Regions from separate parts of the Homo sapiens genome. Here all the other regions are linked to region 1. The links come from fine-mapping of genetic effects on gene expression. A gene starts in region 1. Each other region holds a variant in brackets. All regions are shown on one strand. Distances are between the middles of the regions.

The links. PIP is the estimated chance that this variant, and not a neighbour inherited with it, causes the effect.
Region 2: its variant is fine-mapped to the expression of CRACR2B in whole blood (INTERVAL, PIP 0.93).
Region 3: its variant is fine-mapped to the expression of CRACR2B in whole blood (INTERVAL, PIP 0.92).

The regions. Positions count from the first base shown.
Region 1 is chr11:824,670-832,669 of GRCh38, reverse strand. It overlaps CRACR2B (calcium release activated channel regulator 2B), which reads right to left and starts at 4,751. Exons shown (of 9, transcript NM_001286606.2): 1 at 3,898-4,751; 2 at 3,707-3,818; 3 at 3,130-3,310; 4 at 2,538-2,684; 5 at 2,333-2,420; 6 at 1,957-2,049; 7 at 1,638-1,804; 8 at 1,375-1,446; 9 at 684-1,135. The coding sequence starts at 4,062. The coding sequence ends at 961. PNPLA2 (patatin like domain 2, triacylglycerol lipase) reads right to left here. Exons shown (of 10, transcript NM_020376.4): 10 at 7,097-8,000. The coding sequence ends at 7,808. RefSeq lists silencers at 1-42, 1,895-2,504, 4,699-4,788, 5,029-5,648 and enhancers at 478-1,015, 1,016-1,555, 2,634-3,171, 3,172-3,711, 3,712-4,249 and 1 more.
Region 2 is chr11:423,733-431,985 of GRCh38, reverse strand. ANO9 (anoctamin 9) reads left to right here. Exons shown (of 23, transcript NM_001012302.3): 6 at 80-138; 7 at 219-292; 8 at 1,583-1,717; 9 at 1,807-1,903; 10 at 2,168-2,228; 11 at 2,334-2,416; 12 at 3,160-3,264; 13 at 3,347-3,511; 14 at 3,592-3,628; 15 at 3,787-3,898. It overlaps LOC105376506 (a long non-coding RNA gene), which reads right to left and starts at 162. Exons shown (of 5, transcript XR_007062542.1): 1 at 1-162. RefSeq lists an enhancer at 2,241-3,440. The variant A/G (reference allele first, on the strand shown) is at 3,111.
Region 3 is chr11:866,175-874,427 of GRCh38, reverse strand. It overlaps TSPAN4 (tetraspanin 4), which reads right to left. Exons shown (of 9, transcript NM_003271.5): 9 at 7,317-7,866. The coding sequence ends at 7,798. CHID1 (chitinase domain containing 1) reads left to right here. Exons shown (of 13, transcript NM_023947.4): 11 at 3,929-4,009; 12 at 4,265-4,307; 13 at 4,472-6,569. The coding sequence ends at 4,570. Among named protein-coding and RNA genes, the nearest start is that of TSPAN4, 27 kb to the right of the region's middle. RefSeq lists enhancers at 3,059-3,821, 8,032-8,253. The variant T/A (reference allele first, on the strand shown) is at 4,895.

The DNA.
Region 1 (8,000 bases):
GACCCGGCCCTCCTCCATGCCCAACCCCCATCTCTTTCTCCTCACCCAGGAACCGCCCAGAGGCTGCAGGGGTCGGCAGAACCGATGCCGGCCTGGGGCGTGGGAGGGCCTAGCGCTGTGGGCAAATGCGGGAGAAGGGCTACTGTACGTGCAGTGTGGACAGCCTGGAGACCCGGGCAGGCCTGGGGTCCCAGCGAGACATACCCATGGGGTCCTGGGGGGCCCATGCCCTCCAGACTGGAAGGGACCACTGGGAGCGGTGCGAGGAGGTGAGGGACGAAGGGCAGGGCCGGCCTAGGGCTGCACCAAGACGCCAAGAGTGGGAGTGAGGAAGGAGGGGGCTGCCCACCCACCAAGCTCATTCATCACAGCCACAGGGGAGGACCAGCATGGGAGGGGGTGGCCGACTGAGGCCGGGAACCTGCCCGGCCTCCCTGGCGAGACAGTGGGGAGCCCTGATCCACACACTGGCGAGGGCCCCGAGGGGCTCCAGCCTTGATGGGTAGTGTGAGTTTGGGGCATGACCAGGGACACAAGAGGACACGCAGGACCTCAGCCCCATCGCCACAGGCCCGCGCTCCCTGTATTCACCCACACAGCACGCGTGCACAGGTGCCCACCTCATCCATGTGGCACACACAGGCTGTGGCTCCCAGACACACGGAAGGCCCAGGAGGACGCAGTGCAGTCAGTGGGTTTTATTTGACGAGGGGGTTTTCTGCTGAACTGAGATGGGGTTGATTGAACGGGGACAGAGCGAAGACTGGCAGAGGGCACACACGGGACCCTGGCCACTCCCGGGACCCTGACCACTCCTAGGCTAGGTCCTTCATGTCTTCAGTCAGGCGAGCCTGGGGCCCACTGGGGAGAGCCTGCATCCTGAGTGGGCACCCCCGACCCATGACAAGCCTCCTGCAAGGGCAGCTTCTAGCTCATGGTCCGTGAGTCACTCGGGGCTGGTCACCGGGCACTGGGAAGGTGGCCAGAGCCGCGTCTGGGGGGCCGAGCCCAGCAACAGCAGCAGCAGCAGGTGGGCCCAGGCAGGCGGGCTGTTGTCAGAGCCTTCCTGCAGCTGCTGCCCGCCCGCCTGGCCTCGCAGGCGTCCCTGTCATCCCGCAGCCGTGTATTCAGCTCCCTAGGGAAGGAGGAGTCCGACACTGAGAGGGTCTGAGGGAGCTCAAGGTGGGGGGAGGTGAGCTCCGACTCCCCTCAGAGCGAAGAGAGGTGTCTGGCTGAGGCTGCAGCGTGAGGGGTGAAAGGCAGGCATAAGGAAGGACTTCCAATGGAGTAGAGCGGCAGCCAAGAATGTTGGGGAGCTGGGAGCCCCCAAGCTCCGCTGAGCCCATTCCCTCTCGGGCCTGAGCCTGACCGTACCTGAGCAGCTCCAGTTGCCGTAGCAGGCTGACTTTCTCTTTCTGCATGTTCCTGGAGACGGCGACCACGTCTCTGTGGATGGGAGGTGGTGACCCGGCTGCAGGAAGGCTCCTTGGGGAGCCCCCGGACCCCCTAGAAGATCCTCCTTCCCACGGGGCGGGCCTGGGACTTGAGATGGGGATGAAAGTGGCCCAGACCTGAGCGCCCGTCGGCCCCGCCCCCGGGACACGCACCGGGGCCCGCCCAGCCCCGTCCCACGGCACCGTTGGGTTTGCTCCTGGCGGCCTCGTGCTTCGCTCTCCAGCCTGCGGATCTGCTCCTGCGCCCCCTCCAGCTGCGTTCGCAGCGCCTCGTGCGCCCGCCACAGCTGGGAGTTCTGGGCCTGTGCCTCCAGGTGCTCCGCAGCCTGGGCGTGCAGCTGCTGCTCTAACTGGAGGGTGGAAGGATGGAGACCGGCGAGGAACGCCCCCTCTTCCCCGGGGTGCTGCGCGTGCCCCAGGCTCCCGACAACCCGGGGACGCTAAGGCACAGGGGGAGAGTGCACGGGTGACCGTGGGGACAGGGCAGGGGCCGGGTGCTCACCTCCCGCTGCCGCAGGCCCGCGCGTTCCAGGTCCTGCTCGCGGCTCTGCAGCTCCAGCTCCAGACGGCTTCTCCGCTCCCCGCGGGCGAAGTTCTGGGACGCACGGAGGACCACTGAGCCTCCGCCGGCCGCTCGGCCATGCAAAAGAGGTACACGGAGGGCCAGGGGCTGGGAGTGGGCCCGGGCGGAGCGGGGTCGGGTGGAGAAGACCGGACGGGGGTGATACGTGAGGCCCAGTGGGATCTCCTCGGGCTGAGGGCAGCCTGGACCCGCGGAGGTGGGGCCGTCGGGGAGGGATTAATTCAGAGAAGGCGGAGCCAGGGAGGCCAGCGAGGTGGGATTGGGCCTGGCGGGAGGGGCGGGGCCCGAGGCCCACCTGACTCGGCGGGCGCCGGCTCTGCTCCCGAAGCTGCTCCGTCTCCTCGTACAGAGCGCGCACCTCCCTCTCGTGCTCGCTCTCGCGCCTTCGGGGGACCGGGCGACCCCGGATGAGAACTTGCCAGCGCTACAGCCCCCTGGCACCGCCTCTGCTGCTGCCCTGAGGCCCTCCATTGGCCCCCATACCCCACCCCGGCCCTCACCTCCGCAGCGCCTGCTCCAGGCCGTCGCGCTCCCGGGCCGCCTCCTCCAGGCAGGCCGACGCGCGTATCAGAACATCCTCGAAAGAGCCCAGCAGCTCGGGGCGCTCGCGCTGCAGCCTGGCCCAGAGCGTCCTCACAGCCCGCTGCCTGGAGGGCGGGCGGGAACTGAGGCTGGAGCTGGCAGAAGCGGGAAGCAGGCTTCCCTCCGCCAGCAGCAAACCCTTAGGAGACTTCTTCGCCCCTGGGCAGGACAGGAGCACTTGCTGCGTGCAGGGCATCCCTCCCGTGAGCGCTTTCGCCCCTGCCCGGCGTGCGTGGTCGGTGAGGTGTGTGTACCCTGGGCAGTGCCGGTATGTGGCCCCGCGCCCGGCGCTGCCCCTCCTCCCTGCAGCCCTGGCTGCTGCCTCATGAAATGCAAATTCTGCGGGAAATCATGCCGGGTCCCTCCCAGGGAATCGCAGCTGACGCTAGGCTGGGCCTGACCCGGCCTAGAGACCCTGTGCAGAACCAGCACTCGGGTGACAAGGGCAGACAGCATGCAGGCAGAGAAACAGCAGAGCGGGCAGTGGGAGCGGGGCCAGCGCCGACTCACTTGCCCAGGACCGGGGCCACCCCCAGCTGCTCCAGCACAGTGTGGAATCGCTCCTCCTCTTCCTCCTCCTCATCCAGAGAGCCCGCCGTGCCCTGCACGTCGAGCCCGCCCGACTCAAAGGTCTCCTCGGGAGTCCTGCAGGGGTTCGCTCCCTGGGCTGACGCCACCCCCACAAACATCCCTGCGGGCATGGAGCGAGCGATTACCAGGGCTGTGGGTCGCCACCGTGGCTGTGTCCCCGTTCACCCTCCCAACGAGTATCCTGCCCTCTCTCAGGGCCCAGTTTCCTGTTTTCCTTCCTTATTCTGGTCCTATTGGCCTGGAAACAAGAGGTGACAGGCCAGCTCCCAGCCCTACCGGAGCTTAGCACAGGAGAGGAGCTGGGGGCCAGGAAGGTCAGCTCCACACACTCCACCGCAGCTAGGAGCCCCCAGGCGCGAGTGCGTGCAGACAAAGCACGGGCCCTGGAGGGAGGAGGACGAGAGGCACCGGCAGCCCTCAGGGCGCCACAAGTGCCAGGCCTCCTGATCAGGCCTCCAGCTCTGGGCAGTGGGGGATAGGCAGGCCACAGGCTCACCCAGGCCCAGGCAGAACTCCCTGGCGGTGAGGAAGCCAGTGTGAGCCCGGTCCAGACTTTCAAACACAGCCTCCAGCTGCTCTGGCGTGAGGGGCAGGTCGCTCTGGAGACCCTGGTCGGGGAAGGAGAGCAGAGATGAGCCGCTGCGGTCAACCCAGGGCCGAAGCAGTCTCTTGGGGTGGGGGACTCACCTGCAGGTCGTGCTTGGTGATGAAGCCCTTAGCCTCCTTGTCACACAGCAGAAACAGCTCCTCAGCCTGCTCCAGTATTGCAGCCCGCGGCCCTGCAGAGCCCCCCTCGAGTTCCCCCTCCTCCTCCTGGGCCTCATCAGCCCCAGGCTTTCCAGGGCTGGCCATGAGAGCAGGGGGCCTCAGCCTGGCCTTCAGGTGCTGTGAAGCCAAGGGAGGGTCAGAAGAAATTCAGGAGGGGAGCGGATGGGGTGCAAGTGTGTCTGAAGGCTCAGCCGAGGGCCCTCCCTGCAGCAGGTGGGAAGGTGGGCGGAAGGCAAGGTGGGACCAGGGGGCTGGGGGTGGAAAATGCTGCAGGCTTGGGGTGTCACTGGGGTGGTTGATGTAGGCTCAGGGCCTGTGGGTACTGCCCCAGTGGGTCTGGCATCTCAGGAGGCTGGAACCCAGGAGGGGCTGCCAACTTCAGGAGAGGAGGAGCTGGAGGTGATGGCAATCTCAGGGGCCAGTGGAGAAGACCTGGTGATAAGGAAGGTGGGGTCCTGAAAGCTGAGAGGAGCAGGCTTGGGGTCAGTGAGGGAGGAGCCCCTCACACTCTGCAACTGGAGATCTGATCCCAAGTGAGGGCTCAGCCAGTCCTGACCAAGTCCTTAGCCCCTGGCCTGGGCCTGTGTGGCCCAGCCTCATGACAGCTGGCAGGCAGGGCAGACTTCTCCCTCCTGCCCACCGGCCCCTCCCTCCCCACAACTGAGCCCACAGAGTGCAGGGGCAAGGTCCCAGCCTGCAGAGCCCTTCGCCTCTGACGCCCCACTCAGGAACACTTCCAGATTCGAGACCTAACACCCTTGCCCCACAACACTGAGGCCCTTCCCCGTTTCAGAACTCCCTGGGGCCTCCCTTCCCACCTCCTTGCAGGGACGCCCCGCCCCCTAACCAGAGCCACCTGTCCTTCACACAATGTCCTGATCCCGGATTTCCCAAAGCTGCTCCCCACCAACACCCGCCTTCCCCCACCGGGGAGCTGGGATCCTCTCCCCTCACTCTCCACCCAGCGTCCTTCCATGTTCCTTAGCCCGGGCGACCTCCAAAGAGGGCAAGTCTGGGCGGGTGAGAGAAGGGGACACGAGAGGCCAGGGCCATTGCCTCCAGGCCACGTTGTTGTCTCGCCCGCCCTCCGGCTTGCCGGCTAGACCTGAGGTCCACCCCAGCCGGAAGCCGCGCGGCAGCAGGGCCCCAGGGAGGTGGGAGGATGGGCTGGTGGGGTGGGGCGGCCAGCCTCCTGTGCTCCCCGAAACTCTGGGGGACAACCCCGCCCTTACCCCTGCCGCCTTGCGCCCCGAGGGGGTAACCGGAGTTCCCGACCGAGACGCTCAGGTTTGGCGCGGGCCACGGCGGCCCGGAGGGGGTGCCGGGCGGGCGGCAGTGGAGGGGCCTCAGCGGCGGGACCAGCGGTCGCCTACCCGCGAGTTGCGCCGCCGCACCTGCCGCGCGCCCGGGCCGCTCCTCCCGGAAACACTGGGCGCGCCCCGCCCCAGCTGGGACCCGGACGGGACGTAGAGGGCACTGGGCCCCGAGCGACCCCTGCCGCTTCGCAGGCACCGAGACCCCCGCTTGGGCCGGCCCCGGGAGGAGCCACTCTGCGCCGCTGTCGCCTGTCCCCGCCTCTCTGCGCTGCCCCGGCGGCCCGATCCCTGGAGGCTCGAGCGAGCAGTGAAGCAACGATATGCCCCAGAGACCCAGGGACCCCCCGGAGCAGGGACAAGGCTGCGGGGGGCGGGCGCAGACACCAGCGCCTGGGAGGGGCCCCTCCTGTCCGGGGGGAGCCCGACTTAAGGCGCCAAAAAGTGTGTGTAGGAAAAAGCCGGGCAGGAAACAGACCAAATACTTTCAGCGGTTATCTCTAGGGGTGGGGAGCCTTTACTTTCTTCTCTATACTTTCCCGGTTTTTAAACAATAAACATGTAGGCCGGGCGCCTGTAATCCCAGCACTTTGGGGGGCTGAGACAGGGGCAGATCACCTGAGGTCAGGAGTTCGAGACCAGCCTGCCCAACATGGCGAAACCCCGTCTCTACTAAAAATACAAAAAATTAGCCAGGTGTGGTGGTGGGCGCCTGTAATCCCAGCACTTTGGGAGGCTGAGCCAGGAGAATCACTTGAACTCGGGAGGCAGAGTTTGCAGTGAGCCGAGATTGTGCCATTGCACTGGGCAACAAGAACGAAACTCCATCTCAAAACAAAACAATGAACGTGTAATGCTAGAAAATGTTTAACTTAGCAGTATTCAGTGTATATGTATGGGTGAACGAGCTGGGGACTCAGGCAGGTCCCACCTCAGTAGCCCCTCCTGGCTCTCCTTCTGGGGCCCAGCCCTGACTGGGGCTCCCCTTGGGGGAGGATTGGAAGGAGGAGCTGCTTGAGGCCCGAGTGAAACCCTCCTGTGGGGGGAGAAAATTCCACCCCAGACCGAGGAGCCCTCCCCAGCCCCAGCCCCAGCCTGGCCCCTGCACCCACCTGAAGGGCTGGAATCACTGTCCCGCCCGGCAACCCTGGGGGGTACAAGGCCTCTGCTTTTCAAGGAAGGGGCCTGGGATCCAGCGTGCGACCCAGCTGAACCACAAAAGGCTGGGCTTATAGGACAGGACCTTGAGACCAAGGGGGGTGGCCTCTGGCACAGGCACATCAGGGACCTGCCTGGCCGGCTCGCCCAGTCCCAGATCCCAGAACCAACCGTTATTGTTGGCAGGGGGCTGCCACCACAGCCACCCCACGCCTTCTGGGAGGAGCAGGTGGGGGCTGGCTCCAGCACCCTCAGGCCATGGGGCCTTTTTGGTTGCCAAGGAGGGCTGGCCTTCTCCCCTCATGGCCTCCCTGCCATGAAGAGGATGCCCTCAGGAAACCACTTCCCCAGCACAGGGCTGAGTCCCCTTCAGCTAGGACCTCACCTGCCTCCATATCCCAGCCCTGCCCTGTGTACTGGCAGGAGGCTGGGCAGGGGAACAAGAAGGTATGTGCACCAGGCCAGAGAGGCTTGTGAGGGTGGGGGGACAGAGAACTTTGGGCCAAACGCCCAAGTGGAGCAGGGGCCCAGCTTTCCCAGGTCCCCTGTGCTTGGTTTCAGGAACCTCAGCCCCCACAGCTGGCCAAGCCCCAAAACAGTCACACACCCCACTGTGTCACCGTGTGAGGGGAGGGGCAGGCGACACCTTTTGCAAACATTTTCGTTTTTATTTACCAAGAATCTTGGTCCCAAATATTTCCATTGGCCCTCAGAAGGCTGTGGCCAAGGGTCAGCCAGGAGGCTGCTGGGCAAAATTGGGGGGGGTGTGGATGCATCCTAGACAGGGGGGTCGGCAGGAATGCAGTACGTTCATATGTGCCTGTAGGGGGGTGTTCCCAGGCCAGCCTGGCAGGTTCCAAATGCCAGGCCCAGGAGTGCGACGCTGGGAGACCTGGCCTGCAGCTGTGGAGAGGCTGGTCAGCCAAGGTAGGGCCAGACCCTGGCCACCAGGCTCTCACTGCAAGTAAGCAGGCGGTCACATACACACAAAGTGGGCAGAGGCTGGGCTGCAGCATTTATTACATGTGCTTTGGCGAAAATAAATAATTCTTCACACACATATTTCAGCAGGCCATGAAAAACGGGGAGGGAAGGGCAGCTGCAAAGTTCTCAGGAGTAAAGGGGCGGGGGAGGTGCTCGGGCAGCACAGGGGAGGGAAGATTAAGGCACAGGTGCGCGGGGCCTCAGCGGCCCAGGGGAGGGGTGTGGAAACCTCCCCTCTCAGTGCATGCAGCTGGTGAGTGGCTGGCGAGGGGGCCCACGGCAAAGACCCCTCTTGGCAACTGTGAGTCCCCTCATCTCACTGCGCAGTGGTAATGGAGGCGTCTCAGGCAGGGTTCCTCGAGAGGGTCGGGGTCTCACAGCCCCAGGGCCCCGATCACGGGCCGGGCCTCGGGAGCAGGGGTGCTCAGCAAGGGGGCAGGCCCGGCCAGCTGGTGCTGCGGGGATGCTGGGTCCGCGGGGGCGGGAGCCGGGTCGGCGGGTGCGCGCATGCGCAGAGCTTCGGGCGGGAAGGCCACGTTGGTGCAGAAGAGGCCGAGCAGCAGCTGG
Region 2 (8,253 bases), 400 kb after region 1:
TGGGGCACTGACAGGGGCGCTGCGGGCAGGGTTCTCCCAGCACCTCACTCCCCCTGACTCGTGAACCCCTGTGACCCAGAGACCTTCGAGGATCTGATGAAGGACGGGGTCTTTGAGGCCAGGTTCCCCCTGCACAAGGTGAGGGGTGGGCTGGCCTGGAGAGGGCCCTGGGGTGGGACCCTGGGATGGGGGCTCTCACTCTCTGTCACCCGAGCCAGGGGGAGGGACGCCTGAAGAAGACGTGGGCGCGGTGGAGACACATGTTCCGGGAGCAGCCAGTTGATGAAATCAGGTAACGCTGCCCAAAGAGAGCACAGGAACCCCGCGGACGGCCCCGCCTCCTGCGGACGCCCCCAGATACCCGCGGACGCCCCCACACCCCCGCGGAAGCCCCCAGATACCCGCGGGAGCCCCCACACCCCCGCAGACGCCCCCAGATACCCACGGGAGCCCCCACACCCCCGCGGAAGCCCCCAGATACCCGCGGGAGCCCCCACACCCCTGCAGACGCCCCCAGATACCCGCGGGAGCCCCCACACCCCCGCAGACGCCCCCAGATACCCGCGGACGCCCCCACATCCCCGCAGACGCCCCCAGATACCCGCGGGAGCCCCCACACCCCCGCAGACGCCCCCAGATACCCGCGGGAGCCCCCACACCCCCGCAGAAGCCCCCCAGATACCCGCGGACGCCCCCACACCCCCGCGGAAGCCCCCAGATACCCACGGGAGCCCCCACACCCCCGCGGACGCCCCCAGATACCCACGGGAGCCCCCACACCCCTGCGGAAGCCCCCAGATACCCGCGGACGCCCCCACACCCCCGCGGAAGCCCCCAGATACCCGCGGGAGCCCCCACACCCCCGCAGACGCCCCCAGATACCCACGGGAGCCCCCACACCCCCGCGGAAGCCCCCAGATACCCGCGGGAGCCCCCACACCCCCGCAGACGCCCCCAGATACCCGCGGGAGCCCCCACACCCCCGCGGACGCCCCCAGATACCCGCGGGAGCCCCCACACCCCCGCGGACGCCCCTAGATACCGGCGGGAGCCCCCACACCCCCGCGGACGCCCCCAGATACCGGCGGGAGCCCCCACACCCCCGCAGACGCCCCCAGATACCCGCGTGAGCCCCCACACCCCCGCGGAAGCCCCCAGATACCCGCGGACGCCCCCACACCCCCCAGACATCCACACACACCACCCAGAAGCCACCACCTCCTGTAAACGCCCCCACACACCACCCAGAAGATGCTCCCACACTGCCCACACCCTCACAGATGCCCCCACGCCCACAGATGTGCTTCCCATTCAGACTCACTGATGCCACCAAAAGAGAGACCCCCTCCCCCACCCCCCTCCCACCCTGTCCCTCCCCCACTGCCCCCTCCCTCCCCCATCCCTCCCCTGCCTTGCCCTCCCACCCTCATCCCTCCCCGTCCCTCTCCTGTCCCTCCCCCGCCACCCCTTCCCACCCCGTCCCTCCCCCATCCCTCCCCTGCTGCCCCCTCCCACCCCCATCCCTTTCCTGTCCCTCCCCCACCGCCCCCTGACAGCTGGCCTTGACCCCTGCTGCCTGCAGGAACTACTTTGGGGAAAAGGTGGCCCTGTACTTCGTCTGGCTGGGCTGGTACACCTACATGCTGGTGCCGGCCGCCCTGACGGGCCTCTTAGTCTTTCTGAGCGGATTCTCGCTGTTTGAGGCCAGCCAGATCAGGTGGGCCGCAGCAGGGGCCGGGCATGGGGGGCCGGGGTGGGCCCTGCTGCCTGGAGGAGCCGACCCCAGCCTCATCCCTGCCCCTTCAGCAAGGAGATCTGTGAGGCCCACGACATCCTCATGTGTCCCCTCGGCGACCACAGCCGCAGGTACCAGCGGCTCTCGGAAACCTGCACTTTTGCCAAGGTTTGTCGCCTCCGGGTCCACCCCAGGGCCTGCGGAAGATGGGAACGGTGCATCCACCCGAAGCGGGGGAGATCAAGGCCTGGAGCCCTGCAGAGCTGCTCAGCTTTCCCCACAGGGCTGACGGGGAGGCCCAGCCCCAGCCCACCCGCCCATTTCCTCAGCCCACCTGCCCCCTTCCCCGGCTTTCCTGCCTCCCTCCCTGGCTCACCTGCCCCCCTCCCCAGCTCACCCACCTCCTCTCCGGCCCACCTATCACCCCCCCAGCTCACCCACCTCTTTGACAATGATGGCACGGTGGTGTTCGCCATCTTCATGGCTCTCTGGGGTGAGTTGCTGCGGGACGCCTCTGCGGGGCCAGGGGAAGTGCCAGCCCAAGCTCCGAGGTCCACCTGGCGTAGTGCAGTGATGCCCCTCCTTGCCCCCGCCGCAGCCACGGTGTTCCTGGAGATCTGGAAGCGGCAGCGCGCCCGCGTGGTCCTGCACTGGGACCTGTACGTGTGGGACGAGGAACAGGTGAGGTGGAGCTGGCAGCGCAGCTGAGGCCGACCCGAGCAGGGGCTGTTGGCGCCCGATGCCCTGCACGGCCCACATATGCCTGCCGTGTCTGAGGTGTGTGTCCCGAGTCTGTCTCCCCACATGTGGGGCGTGTGTCCTGGTCTGTCCACCTGTGAGGCGTGTCCCTGTGTCTGTCTCCCCACGTGTGGGGTGAGTGTCCCGTGTCTGTCCACCCGTGAGGCGTGTCGCTGTGTCTGTCTCCCCACGTGTGGGGTGCGTGTCCCATGTCTGTCTCCCCATGTGTGGGGTGAGTGTCCCGTGTCTGTCCACCCGTGAGGTGTGTCCCTGTGTCTGTCTCCCCACGTGTGGGGTGAGTGTCCCGTGTCTGTCCACCCGTGAGGCGTGTCCCTGTGTCTGTCTCCCCACGTGTGGGGTGAGTGTCCCGTGTCTGTCCACCCATGAGGCATGTCCCTGTGTCTGTCTCCCCACGTGTGGGATGAGTGTCCCGTGTCTGTCCACCCGTGAGGCGTGTCCCTGTGTCTGTCTCCCCACGTGTGGTGTGAGTGTCCCGTGTCTGTCCACCCGTGAGGCGTGTCCCTGTGTCTGTCTCCCCACGTGTGGGGTGCGTGTCCCGTGTCTGTCTCCCCATGTGTGGGGTGAGTGTCCCGTGTCTGTCCACCCGTGAGGTGTGTCTCTGTGTCTGTCTCCCCAC[A/G]TGTGGGGTGAGTGTCCCTTGTCTGAGGCTTGCCCGGTGCTCTCCCCAGGAGGAAATGGCACTTCAGCTCATTAACTGCCCCGACTACAAGCTCCGGCCATACCAGCACTCCTACCTACGCAGCACCGTCATCCTCGTCCTGACCCTGCTCATGGTACGCAGGGGACACCGCGGTGGGGCTGGAGACCCGGGCTGCATGCCCTCCCCGGCCCCCGCCCACCACAGCTGTCCCGCAGATCTGCCTCATGATCGGCATGGCCCACGTCCTGGTGGTCTACCGCGTCCTGGCCTCCGCGCTCTTCAGCAGCTCGGCCGTGCCCTTCCTGGAGGAGCAGGTGACCACGGCCGTGGTGGTGACCGGGGCTCTGGTGCACTATGTGACCATCATCATCATGACCAAGGTGGGGCCGGGAGCAGGGCAGGCCCGAGCTGGGGGGTCCACCGGAGCCCCAGTGAGCCCATTCGGTGCCCTCCTCCGCAGATCAACAGGTGCGTGGCCCTGAAGCTTTGTGACTTCGGTGAGAGGACTACCCCAGACCCTCTTGGGGGACCCGGCGGGAGGACTCAGGGCTGGGGCCTTGGGGCTGTGGTCAGAGAGCAGGGGAGGGGACCCTTCCTGCTGCCCCAGGGCCTCTCCTATGAGCAGGGAGAGAGGTGAGGGCCGGTCCCATTCCAGAGATGCCCAGGACCTTCTCGGAGCGAGAGAGCAGGTTCACCATCCGCTTCTTCACACTGCAGTTCTTCACCCATTTCTCGTCTCTCATCTACATCGCCTTCATCCTGGGCAGGTAGGGCCGGCGCCAGGCTCCCTCCAACCCAACTCACGAGGGCTTGTTCCACTGCCTTTAAAGTGGCAATGTCCATTCTTTTAATTTTAAAAGTAATTTCTGCTGAGAGCAAGTGGAAATCCAATCTAGAGACATGTGAGCAAAGCCTGCAGTGAGCCCAGCTCCTGAATCCCGGGCCCCGAGGTAGCATCAAGACAGTCTGGTGGCCTCCCAGGCTTTTTCATGCATTTGCAGGCGCATAACAGCACTGGCAGAAATGGCTTTGTCCTGGGAATAACTGCACCTGCTCTTTATGCTGAAAATGCACTTGGTGTCTTCCTGGGTCTGCCTGCCCACACATCCTCGTATACATGTATATATGAGAGAGAGAGAGAGAGAGACAGAGACAGGGTCTTGCTGTCGCCAGGCTGGTGTCCAGTGGCACAATGTTGGCTCACTGCAGTCTTGACCTCCTGGGTCTCCTGAGTAGCTGGGATTACAGGCGTGCACCACCACACCCAGCTAATTTTAATATTTTTTGTAGAAATGGGGTCTCACCGTGTTACCCAGGCTGGTTTCGAATTCCTGGGCTCGAGCGATCCTCCTGCCTCAGTTTCCCAAAGTGTTAGGATTTCAGGCGTGAGCCACTGCACCTGGCCAAAAAAAGGTGCATATGGATTGATGGAGCCAGAAAGACTCATTTCACTAATTAGGAAGGCGAGGTGAGAGGGATGCTGGCTGCAGCTTTACTTTTTTTTTGAGATGGAGTCTCGCTCTGTCGCCCAGGCTGGAGTGCAGTAGCATGATCTTGGCTCGCTACAACCTCTGCTTCCTGGGTTCAAGCAATTCTCCTGCCTCAGCCTCCTGAGTGGCTGGGACCACAGGTGCGCACCACCACACCCAGCTAATTTTTGTATTTTTTGTAGAGAAAGGGTTTCACCATGTTGGCCAGGCTGGTCTCGAGCTCCTGACCTCAGGTGAGCCACCACGTCTGGCCCTGTAGATGCTGGTTCTTGACCCCCATCCGTCTTGGGAAAGGCGTGCACCATGGCTTGCTGTGGGCCACGTCTCTCCTGGTGGGACCTCTCACTCTGGAAGCTCCTGCGGGTGAACCCTGGTCTCCTGTCTGGAGGCAGAAGGACGCTGTCTATGTGCTGGGAGGCCAGCTGGGGTTGGGGAGGACAGTGTGGGGCCTCAGTGTCAATTGGTCCAACCCTGTGTGCTGAGTCCCTGGTTGTTCAAACCCCTAGTGAGCTTCTAGTCCTCCTGAGGGGGTTTTGTGGTCAGGTAGGAAGCCCAGGGACCTTCCAGCTGGGCCTGCATTCCCCTAATCAGTGCCCCCAAGCCACCAGGGGTACCCAAGTCCCGAGGCTTCCTGGGGATCCTGGCAGGGCTGGGTTGCTTCCTGAGTGTCTCCCCCGAAAGCCTGATGTCTTGAGTGGACTTCAGGCCTCTCCAATTCCCTTACACCTCTAAGGTGATGCCTGGTAGTGGGTGTCAGCAGCCTGTCATTTTATTTTTATTTATTTACTTTTAGAGACAGTATCTTGATCCATTGCCCCAGGCTGGAGTACAGTGGTACCATTACAGCTCACTACAGCCTCAAACTCCTGGTTCCAGCAATCCTCCTGCCTCAGCCTCCCGAATAGCTGGGACTACAGGCATGTGCCACCATGCCTGGCTAATTTTTTCTATTTTTTGTAGAGATGGGGTTTTGCCATGTTGCCCAGGCTTGTCTCGAACTCCTGGGCTCAAGCAATCCTCCTGCCTCGGCCTCCCAACGTGCTACGGGATAACAGGTGTGAGCTACCGCACCTGCAGTCTCAAGCAATCCTCCTGCCTTGGTGTCCCCACGTGCTGGGATGACAGGTGTGACCCACTGCACCTGCAGTCGCCATTTTAATTGTGACTTGGGAGTTTGCATTTACATTAACATAGATCCTGCTAAAGAGACCTCCAGAAAGGCTGTGTCAGTGACAAAGCTACCCACAGTGTGTGAAACTATATGTTCCATCTTGAGCTGATGGGCAAAGTCTTTTCATTTTTTAAAAGTGCCTTTAAAAAACTACTGGTGAGGGGCTGGGCGAGGTGGCTCACGCCTGTCATCTCAGCACTTTGGGAGGCCGAGGCACGAGGATCATGAGGTCAAGAGATTGAGAGTATCCTGGCTAACACGGTGAAACCCCATCTCTACTAAAAAAAAATACAAAAAATTAGCCGGGCGTGGTGGCGGGCACCTGTAGTCCCAGCTACTGGGGAGGCTGAGGCAGAATGGTGTGAACCCGGGAGGCAGAGCCTGCAGTGAGCTGAGATCGCGCCACTGCACTCCAGCCTGGGCGACAGAGTGAGACTCCGTCTCAAAAAAAACAAAACAAACAAACAAACAAAAAACAAAAAACAAAAAACTATTGGTGAAGTCTAGCATCTTTCCAGATATTTACTGATCATTGTATTTTTTTTCCTATGAATTGACTGTTCATATTATCGGAGCATTTTTGTTAGGTTATCGTAGCATGAAGGCCAGGCTTCTTTCTTGCTTGCTTTTTTTTTTTTTTAACTGTCAGTTTCTTATAATCATGGTATGTTTTACTTTGCATCATATTTGTAACATTTATTGTACAGCTCTTTGTTTTTCCTGGAGTTTCTTTATCTTTTGTTGTTTTTGATTTTGTCTGCCTTCCAATCCATCTCCTGGGGTTTCTACTTGCCTCTTTTTCTTGAATGTCTTTATCAATTGTATCCAGCCTCTCTGTGGTACATCGTGTATTGCACGGAGTCCCTTTTCTTCCAGAGATCTTCCTTGGGAGCCTTTTCCTCCCGCGCGTCCCGTCTCTCCACGCCGCCTTTTGCTCCCGCGCGTCCCGTCTCTCCACGCCGCCTTTTCCTCCCGCGCGTCCCGTCGCTCCACGCCGCCTTTTCCTCCCGCGCGTCCCGTCTCTCCACGCCGCCTTTTCCTCCCGCGCGTCCCGTCTCTCCACGCCGCCTTTTCCTCCCGCGCGTCCCGTCTCTCCACGCCGCCTTTTCCTCCCGCGCGTCCCGTCTCTCCACGCCGCCTTTTCCTCCCGCGCGTCCCGTCTCTCCACGCCGCCTTTTCCTCCCGCGCGTCCCGTCTCCCCGCCGCCTTTTCCTCCCGCGCGTCCCGTCTCCGCGCCGCCTTTTCCTCCCGCGCGTCCCGTGTCCATGTCTCCTCCTTGTAACATCTGGAGAGATTTCCTTCACTTTGTGCCTTTTTCTCCATCGATTGATTTCTTTGTTTTACGTTTAACAATTAAAGTCTTAATTTCTAAGAGTGTTTTGTTTCCTCTTTATTTTTTATTCACAGCATCCCTTCCGTGTTTTTATGTTCTTGAGGATTTCAATTAGGTTTTCCTTCTCCCTGAGTTCTCATCTGTTCCCTAATTATCTCTTGTTTCCTAAAGGGTCCATTTTTGTTTTTTAATCGTTATTCTCCTCTTACTCCTCTGTGAGTAAATCTCTGTGGTTATTCATTCGTATTAAAGACCAAGGAACTGAATTGATTTTTCTTGATGGATGAGATGGGTCTGTATAATAGTAGCTACATCCATTGCCCACTCACACATTCTATCATTAACTCATTTAATCTGCACAGTAGCCCTATAGGGCAGAGCTTCTCTCATTGCCATTTTACAGAATAGATGACTGAGGACCAGAGAGGTTAAGAAATTATCTCCAGGACACACAGCCAGTGGGTGGCGGAACAGATAAAAACCACAAAGTCTGGCTCTAGAGCTTAGTTCTGTGCCTCTTTGCATGGGGAGGTCTCTCGGAAAACAGCGTGAAAAATCTACCTGGTTTCTCATGTTACACTAGAGCAAATTTTCTTTTTGACAGTATTCCTTTATGGTTCTATTTTTTCATGCCACTCCTCAAGATTAATAAATATGTTCAACTGTGGGCCAGGTGCAGTGGCTTATGCCTGAAATCCCAGCACTTTGGGAGGCTGAGGCAGGCAGATCACCTGAGGTCAGGAGTTCAAGACCAGACTGGCCAACATGAAGAAACCCCGTCTCTACTAGCCAGGCGTGGTGGTGTGAGCCTGTAGTCCCAGCTACTCGGGAGGCTGAGGCACAAGAATCACTTGAACCCAGGAGGCAGAGGTTGCAGTGAACTGAAATCGCACCATTGCGCTCCAGCCTGGGTGACAGAGTGAGGCTCCATCTCAAATGTGTGTGTGTGTGTGTGTGTGTGTGTGTGTGTGTGTGAGTATTCAACTGTGATTTCCTTTAGATGTTTATGATTTCAAAATATTAAACATTTGGCTGAGTGCAGTGGCTCATGCTTGTAATCCCAGCATTTTGGGAGGCCAAGGTAGGAGGATTACTTGAGGCTGGGAGTTCAAGACCAGCCTGGGCAAT
Region 3 (8,253 bases), 42 kb before region 1:
GCAGTGGCTTGATTTCAGCTCACTGTAGCCTCCACCTCCCAGGTTCAAGTGATTCTCCTGCCTCAGCCTCCCAAGTAGCTGGGACTACAGGTGTGTGCCACCATGCCTGGCTAATTTTTTGTATTTTTAGTAGAGATGGGGTTTCACCACGTTGGCCAGGCTGGTCTCGAACTCCTGACCTCAGGTGATCCGCCCGCCTCAGCCTCCCAAAGTGCTGGGATTACAGGCGTGAGCCACCACGCCCGGCCCCCTCTGTTTTTAATCCTTGCGTTTTAGACCTTGGCAAAGTCCCCAGGCTTTGGAGCAAGCCTCTCATCCCACTTATTTTGGTTTTCTGCAGCCCTTTCTCCAAAAGTTTCCAAGCTGGTCTCCGTGGGGTGACGCCCCCCACACACACACACATCAGGAGGTCCAAGGACATCTTTCTCACACTTGATCTGCTTTCTCCCTAGAAACGCGTCGAACCTCTGTCCCTGGTCCTCCTAAATTGCTCTGTGGCGCGTCTCGGTGTGTTTTGTGTGTATATCCTGTTTGGCTTTCCTTGGCCCTTTCCATTTGAGGCCTTGCAGCTGTTTTTGAGGTTGGATGAAATTCACATACCATAAAATGCACCATTTCAAAGTGGCGTTTAACACGCTTCCAGAATTGTACAGCCCGCATTACTGCTCCCCAAAAAAAGAAGCCCTGTGCCTTTTAGCAGCTGTGCCCTCTTTCTCCGCCCTAGCTTGTGCCCACCTCCAGCCCACCGTCTCTGTAGGTTTGTCTGTTCTGGATGTTTCTGTGAGGCCGAGCTGTCCGTGTTCATTGAGTCCTTATTCCTTACATCCTCCCCGTCCATGTGCTTGTCCCTCCCTTGGGCTCCTGCAGTGCTCCCTGCACCCACTCTCGGACTTTCACCTTCCCCTGCCCTCTCTGTGGCCCTTCCTTCCTCCCAGGCAGGCCCCTCGCTCGCTCCCCACTCACTGTGGCTGGTGCCTGCGCCCAAAAGACCTGTGTGGCCCTTGTTCCTCCTGGGAGCCTGGTCCCCTGGTGTGCTTGTCCATCACACCAGCCATGCTCCTTGGGGTCTTACAAGCCCTCAAGGGGGTCCCAGTTACCAGCCTGGATGGCCACTCAGGCCCCCCAAGGACCCAGCCCCTGTGTGTGTCTGCGGCCCTCTGAGGACTGTCCTCCCTCTGCTGTGGGCCTGGACTCCCTCTGCTGTGCCTGCAGCTGCCCGTCCTCACTCAGCCCCGCCCCTATACCGGGTGGCCCCACCTTCCCTCCCCAGGAGTGACTCTCAGACCCTCCCTGGGCTTTTGGGAGCTGGGCACACACCCCCACCCAGCACCTGGGCTCCAGCTTCTCCTCGTCCCCAGGGCCTGCTTGGGAGTAGCGATTCCTGGGGTTGGGGTCCCTGACAGCGCCCTGGTCATGGCTGCCCCCACAGCGTGGTCACCACCCACTCGCCAAACCACCAGGCTGGGGCTCCTGAGTGGGAGGCACCCAGTGCTCTCAGGGGTCCTGGCCACCCCCAGCCTCACCTCCTCCTGGAGGCAGCAGATTTTGAGCAGTGACCACAGAGGCCCCCCAGGAGGAGGAGTGTGTGGCGTGGCCAGAGCTCCCCACAGCCCGAGGGCCAACCCTGCCCTGAGGTATCTGCCCACGACCCTGCACATCCCATTCTTCTCACAGAGCCACCCAGCAGATATTGAGGGGGGACGCTGCAAATTACACCAACAACACCTTGAGTGGTGTTTCAGTTAAGGATAATGCAGTAATTTTAGAGCTGTCTGATGGGGTTGTGGCTATGCTGGCAGCCTCCATGACGTTGCCTGGTCTGGAGGGGCTTCTGGAAGGACCATGTTTGCATGTGGCCATTGAGGGGCCTGGCCCAGCCACAGGAGGGCAGGGGTCCAGCAGTCCTTTTCCAGGCCTGGGATGGCTGGAGCTGCCAGCCACTGCTGCCATCCCATTACCAGAGTCTAGAGGGACTGGGTGCGGTGGCTCACGCCTGTAATCCTAACACTTTGGGAGGCCGAGGCAGGCAGTCACTTGAGGTCAGGAGTTCAAGACCAGCATGACTAACATGGAGAAACTCCATCTCTACTAAAAATACAAAAACCAGCTGGGCGTGGTGGCGGGTGGCTGTGATCCTAGCTACTTGGGAGGCAGAGGTGGGAGAATTGCTTGAACCCAGGAGGCGGAGGTTACAGTGAGCCAAGATCATGCCACTGCACTCCAGCCTGAGTGACAGCGAGACTTTGTCTCAAAAAAACAGAAACAGGCGTCTAAGGGAAACTGTCTGGGTTGGGGAGGCTGCCCGAATGCTGTTTCCCACCCTCCCTGCCATGTGTTTGCCGGGGTCTGATGTCTGCAGAGCAGCCTCCATGCCCCAAAAGGCCAGAGCTACCCGATGGGGTCTGGCACTTTGTCGAGCACTGCTGGGGGGGTGGCAGCTGCTCCCATTCACAGCTCTGAAGTGACATGTGCCCTAGTCTGGAAGAGGCTCCCAGTGTCAAGGGGACTCTGCCCTGCTCAGGACAACAGCAGCCTTTCCCGTTTGGGAGCCTCAAACATCCCACTACTCCTGGGCAGGAGCAGAAAGGTGGCTCGAGGTGCGGTCCTGTGGCCATTTCTCACTTGGATAAACCCTGCACTGTCCATCTGTGACCCCTTAGGATCCTGCGGATGTCCATGCCACACGGCCCAGGTCCCTGCGCCCCTGCAGTTGCCTACTGCCTGTCCTCCCCTCCCACATGGCACCCGGGCTGTAGGCCCCACGCCAGGCCTCCTCCCTGAGGCTGCAGCCCCAGGCACGTGGGGGGCACTGTCCTCACGCAGCAGGCACTGGTCATGTTCCATTGTCAGCTGCCTCCACCTGCACAGACTCCTGTCTGTGGAGACCAGAAGCTTCTGGAACCACCTGCCCTGGTCCCAAATGTGCAGTGTGAGATGTGCACACACTCAGGGCCCCGTGACCTGGAAGCCGCAGTCGTGTCCCCAGCACCTTGGGAATGAGCCTGTCCTCTGTGTGAAGGAGGGGGTGGTTCTCAAACCACTGACTCTTGGTGCTCAGGAGGGGCCTGCTGCTGTCCTGGGCATGGGGTGGTCATTGTTCAAGACTGAGGCAGACTCAGTCTTTGAAAGGGTGCAGAGGCCAGGCGCGGTGGCTCACGCCTGTAATTCCAGCACTTTGGGAGGCCAAGGCGGACAGATCACGAGGTCAGGAGTTCGAGACCAGCTTGGCCAATACGGTGAAACCGCATCTCTACTAAAAAATAACAAAAATTAGTCGGGCATGGTGATGTGTGCTTGTAGTCCCAGCTACTCAGGAGGCTGAGGCAGAAGAATCACCTGAATCTGGGAGGCAGAGGTTGCAGTGAACCAAGATCGCACGACTGTACACCAGCCTGGGCGACAGAGTGAGACTCCGTCTCAAAAAAAAAAAAAAAAAAAGGTGCAGAAACCACTGCCCCGGGCAGCCATCCCCAGTACAAGGCACTGCCCACCCAGTACGAGGCACTGCCCATCAGTCCAGGGCCAGCAGCGGGGCCAGGGCAGCCTGAGGCCTGTCTGGTTAGCCTCTCACCTGGGGTCTGGACAGAGTGAGGAGCCCTGTCCAGCAGCCGCTGCGCGGCCTGAGGGTCACCCTCAGGCTCAGGCAGTTTCAGGCCCCGTGTCACTCTCCAGGCCACTGAAAGGACTTGGTGGGGTGGCTTCTTCCGAGGAAGCTCCTGGAAGATGTTTTTCCTGAGGTTTCCTCTAATACAGGGTTCACACGGCCTGGGGCTCTGGCCACCCCACCAGGTGTTGTCCCCCAGACCACTGGGGACAGTGGCTGCCCCGAGTGGCCCTGCCCCTGCTGAGAGCCACAGCCTTTGGGGGTACAGGGTGGGGCTGTGGGGGAGCTGGGTGGGCTCCCAAATCCATATCCTGGTCTCCCCAGGTACATCCAGACACTGAAGGACCACAGGCCCCGGATGGTGTGGGACAGCCAGGCCTCAGAGCACTTCTTCGAGTACAAGAAGTGAGTGTTTTGAAGTGCGTGGCCCACCTTGGCCTTGTGTGCAGGGAGGGGCCCTGGGGGTGGAGATGAGGGAGCAGCAGGGCCCAGGGGGTCTCAGGGTCACGAGCTCACTTGCTGCTCCCGGCCCTGGAGCACAGCTGGACAGCAGGTGGCCACCTGGTGGGTGGGAGGAGTACAGGCCGTGGACCTTGGCTGTGAGGGGAGGAGGCCTGGAACCAGCAGAGCGGATGGGCTGACAGTCCCTTTGTCTTGCAGGAGCCGCAGTGGGAGGCACGTCGTCTTCTACCCAACCCTGAAGGTGCGTGTGCTGCCAGCCGTGGGACCGGGGGAGGGGTGGGCCATGCGACAGCACAGCAGGCACTGGCCTGGGGTCCAGGCGGTGCTGCCCCTCGGCCTGGAGGACATCCCTGGGTGTTGGGGGGACAGGCCCCAGCAGGTGCTCACACCTCCATCTGTGCCCAGTCCCTGCAGGTGCGGCTGGAGCTGGCCCGGGAGCTGGGCGTTGGGGTCTCTATCTGGGAGCTGGGCCAGGGCCTGGACTACTTCTACGACCTGCTCTAGGTGGGCATTGCGGCCTCCGCGGTGGACGTGTTCTTTTCTAAGCCATGGAGTGAGTGAGCAGGTGTGAAATACAGGCCTCCACTCCGTTTGCTGTGACGGGTCTGCTGCAGTCCTCAGTCGGGGGTCCTGGGCACCATGTGACTCCCCATCCTCCCATGAGGGGTCCCTGCCCTGGATGAGTCCTAGCTGGGGGACACCCTGAGAGCTCGAGCCCCTCCCACCCGGGCATCCGCTGGCTGCCTCCTGTCAGCTGGGCAGGCGGGGCCCACAGTACCTGCCCCACCAGGACAGCCTGGCTCAGGCCTTTCTGGGCTGCTTCTCACA[T/A]CCTGGGCTGGATGTGGGTTTGGAAGCTCTGGAACCATCCCGGACTCGCCCACTCCTGGATTCGAGGGCCCTCGCAGGGACAGCTCTGCCCAGCATCACCCCAGGGCCTGGCAGTGATAGAGCTGAGAGCTCCACCCCCACATACCTGCCACCCACCTGGCCAGCCACAGCACGTGTGTCACCTGCAGAGAGCCACCCAGACGTCCCCACCGAGTCCAGCACGGCAAGGGTGCAGGGGCTGCCCTAGAAATGGGCTCAGAGGAGCCTGGCCCACCCTCTTGAAACTGGTCCTGGACCTTGGCTCAGCTCTGCCGCCTCAGGTAGCACGACCCCCAGGCCAGCCTGGACACATCAGGGAGCATGGTGAGGGGCAACGGCAGGACCCGTGGGCCATATCGGGACAGGCATTTCCAGCGAGGGGTGGGGCAGAGGACATGTGGCTGGCAGGCTACACCCACCCTGCCATGCAGCGGTGTCCAGGCTCTGGGGAGGCCCTGGGGAATTTGGAGGCATCATGAGCCAAGGCCTGGTGGCCCTCGTTCCCCTGCCCCTCGTCACCATCCTGTCCTTGGCTGGCCGTGAGGACTCCCCTCCTCACCACTGGGTCCCACAGGGCTGAGGTGGGCAGTAGAGGGCATAGGTGGGTACATGTCCCGGGCAAGGTCTCTCGGGGGGACAGAAGTGAGTCCAGGGAGTGGGTGGGCCTGGGCGTCCCTCACTCAGAATGCCGTGGGGTGAGGACGGTGAGGACAGGGTGGGCACTGGGTTCTGGTTTAGAGTCAGTAATGTTAGGGCGCAGTGGGCAGGGGGTCAGGACATCTCCAGCCGGTGGTGAGGAAGCATGGTGGGGTCTCCTCCACAGGACGGGAGCTGGGGAGGGGGTCCTGGGTCGGACCCAAGGCACCCACACTTGAGAAAGCCTCCGCCTGGACGTCAGGGAGGCCTGCGAGCTGCCACAGTGCAGGTGCAGCCGTTCCCACCGCCCTGCTGCTGCTTGACACGGGCATAGGAGATACAAGTGGTGTGTGCGGCGGTTCATGCCTGTAATCCCAGTACTTTGGAAAGCCGTGGCGGGAGGAACGCTGGGCAACATGGTGAAACCCCGTCTCTACCCCCTAAAAATAGAAAAATTAGCAAGACATGGTGGCATGTGCCTGTACTCCTGGCTACTCAGGAGGCTGAGATGGGAGGATCGCTTGATGAGGTTGAGGCTGCAGTGAGCTGTGACCGACTGCACTCCAAAAACCTTGTCTAAAAAAACACAAGCTGCCACTGGCTTTGGGGCACTGACCTTGTCTCCCCAGAGGTGCTGACGCTAACATTCAAGTTGTTCTCGGGGGTCCTGTGGCTTCTGTTGGAGTGAGGGTGGGGGACACGCAGGTCTGGGAGGGTGGTGTGGGCCTGGAGCTAGGCATTGCCAGATCAGCATTGGGTGGAGGCAGGGGTGGGGATGCCACACAGGATGGGATGTCTAGAGCGGGCTGTGTCTCCCGGGGGGATGGGCAGAGGGTGGGGCAGGAATTAGCTGGAAATGAGATTGTGGGGTGCAGTTTGGGGATCAGATGCCCCAACCTGAACTGACCGTCATCCCTGTGGCCAGGGTCCCCACACAACCCTCACCCCTGGCTGTGAGAATCCTGAGGCACCTTGATGCATTTTTTTTCATGCCCTGTGACAGGTGCTTTGTGCTGCCAGCTCACTTAAAGGGGCAGAGTTCTAGGAACAAAATAGGGGAAAAGCACAGCCCCGCCTCGACAGCAGGCCCCAGGGTAGGGGGCGATGTGGAGGGAGGCCCGCCTCAGGAGGAGCCCCCGGGGTGGGGGGGTGAAGCAGAGGGAGGCCACCCCTAGCAAAGGCTGGCAGTTCAGGGACGGCCCCCCAGGGGCCTTGGCACTTTATTTTTTATTACTTTTTTTTTTTTTTTTTTTGAGATGGACTCTTCCTGTGTCATCCAGGCTAGAGTGCAGTGGTGCGATCTCGGCTCGTTGCAACCTCCATCTCCTGGAATCAAGCGATTCTCCTGCCTCAGCCTCCCAAGTAGCTGGAATTACAGGCGCCCGCCACCACGCCCGGCTAATTTTTTATTTTTAGTAGAGACAGGGTTTCACCATGTTGGCCAGGCTGGTCTCAAACTCCTGACCTCAGGTTATCCACCCACTTTGGCCTCCCAAAGCCGAAGGGATTACAGGTGTGAGTCACTGCACCCGGCCTCATCACTTCTTAGAGCTAATGTCATGATTTCCTTAAAACCAGAGGTCTGGAGACTGCTCTGCAGGCAGCTCCCCCAAGCCTGTGCACCAGGTGACCCCACAGCCCCAGGGCTCTGCCTAAGCACCGTTCATGCCAGAGGCTGCCCTGCCCCAGGCCTGGGTGCCAGAAGGGAAGATAGGGTAGGGAAGGCAGACGAGCAATAGACGCAAGGTTGCTGCTCACACTTTATTAAGATGCACCAGGAGCCCCACGGGCCCACTATGGAATGTAGGTGAGGGGTCCACGGCCCCGCCTGGAGCACCAGGACCAGTGGGGCCACCTCCAGGATGCCAAGACCCGGCTCCTCCAGCGCCAACCTGTTTTCCAGGAGGCTGGGGGCCACAGGCTGGCTCCCGTGTGAACACTGCTTTGGAGAATACGTAAATATAAAAAGTGCTGGAGGCCCCTCCCACCCCTGCCCTGGGTTCCGCAGCCAGCACGTGGCCACCCCTCCCAGGGGGGGTCCGGAGGCCCTGAAGCCACCTGAGCTAGGGCCTTCCAGAAACAGGGTTCCGGGGGCTCCAGGCACCTGTCCCTCCCTCCCTCCTCCCAGCATGGGGCAGAGCACCGAGGCTGGTGGTGGGAAAGGCAGCTGTGGGTGCGGCCATCTCCCCGTGGGCGTCCTTTTGGCAGAGAAGCGGGCGGTGGGCGGCCTACGCGCAGTAGGTGTCTGCCTTGACCACTTGGCAGTACATGGTCATGGCGAAGGTCAGGCCCAGGATCTGTAGGTAGGGGAGGAGGACTGGGCATGGCAGCTCCACAGGCTCAGGCCTCAAGCCCAGAGCAGTCCCTGTCCTCAGCAGGTGCCCTGGCCCTGACCCCGACCCCAGGGTGGGCGACACAGTGGCAGAGCCCTTCAGCTTCCTGGTGGCTTGCACGCCCCACCCAACCCCTGTGGCTCGAGCCACAGCACCCTCCCCTGAGCCTTGCAGGCATGAGGACACCCAGAACTTCCTGAGGGCTGTGGAGTTTGGAAACCAGGGGCCACTGGCACCAGGGCCCCAGCTGCCACCCTCTGTGCACTGGCCAGTCCTGGGCCACCGACCAACATGGACGACCACCGGCCTCCACCCCACACCAGCCTCTGCCTCTGTCCACTAAGAGGGAGC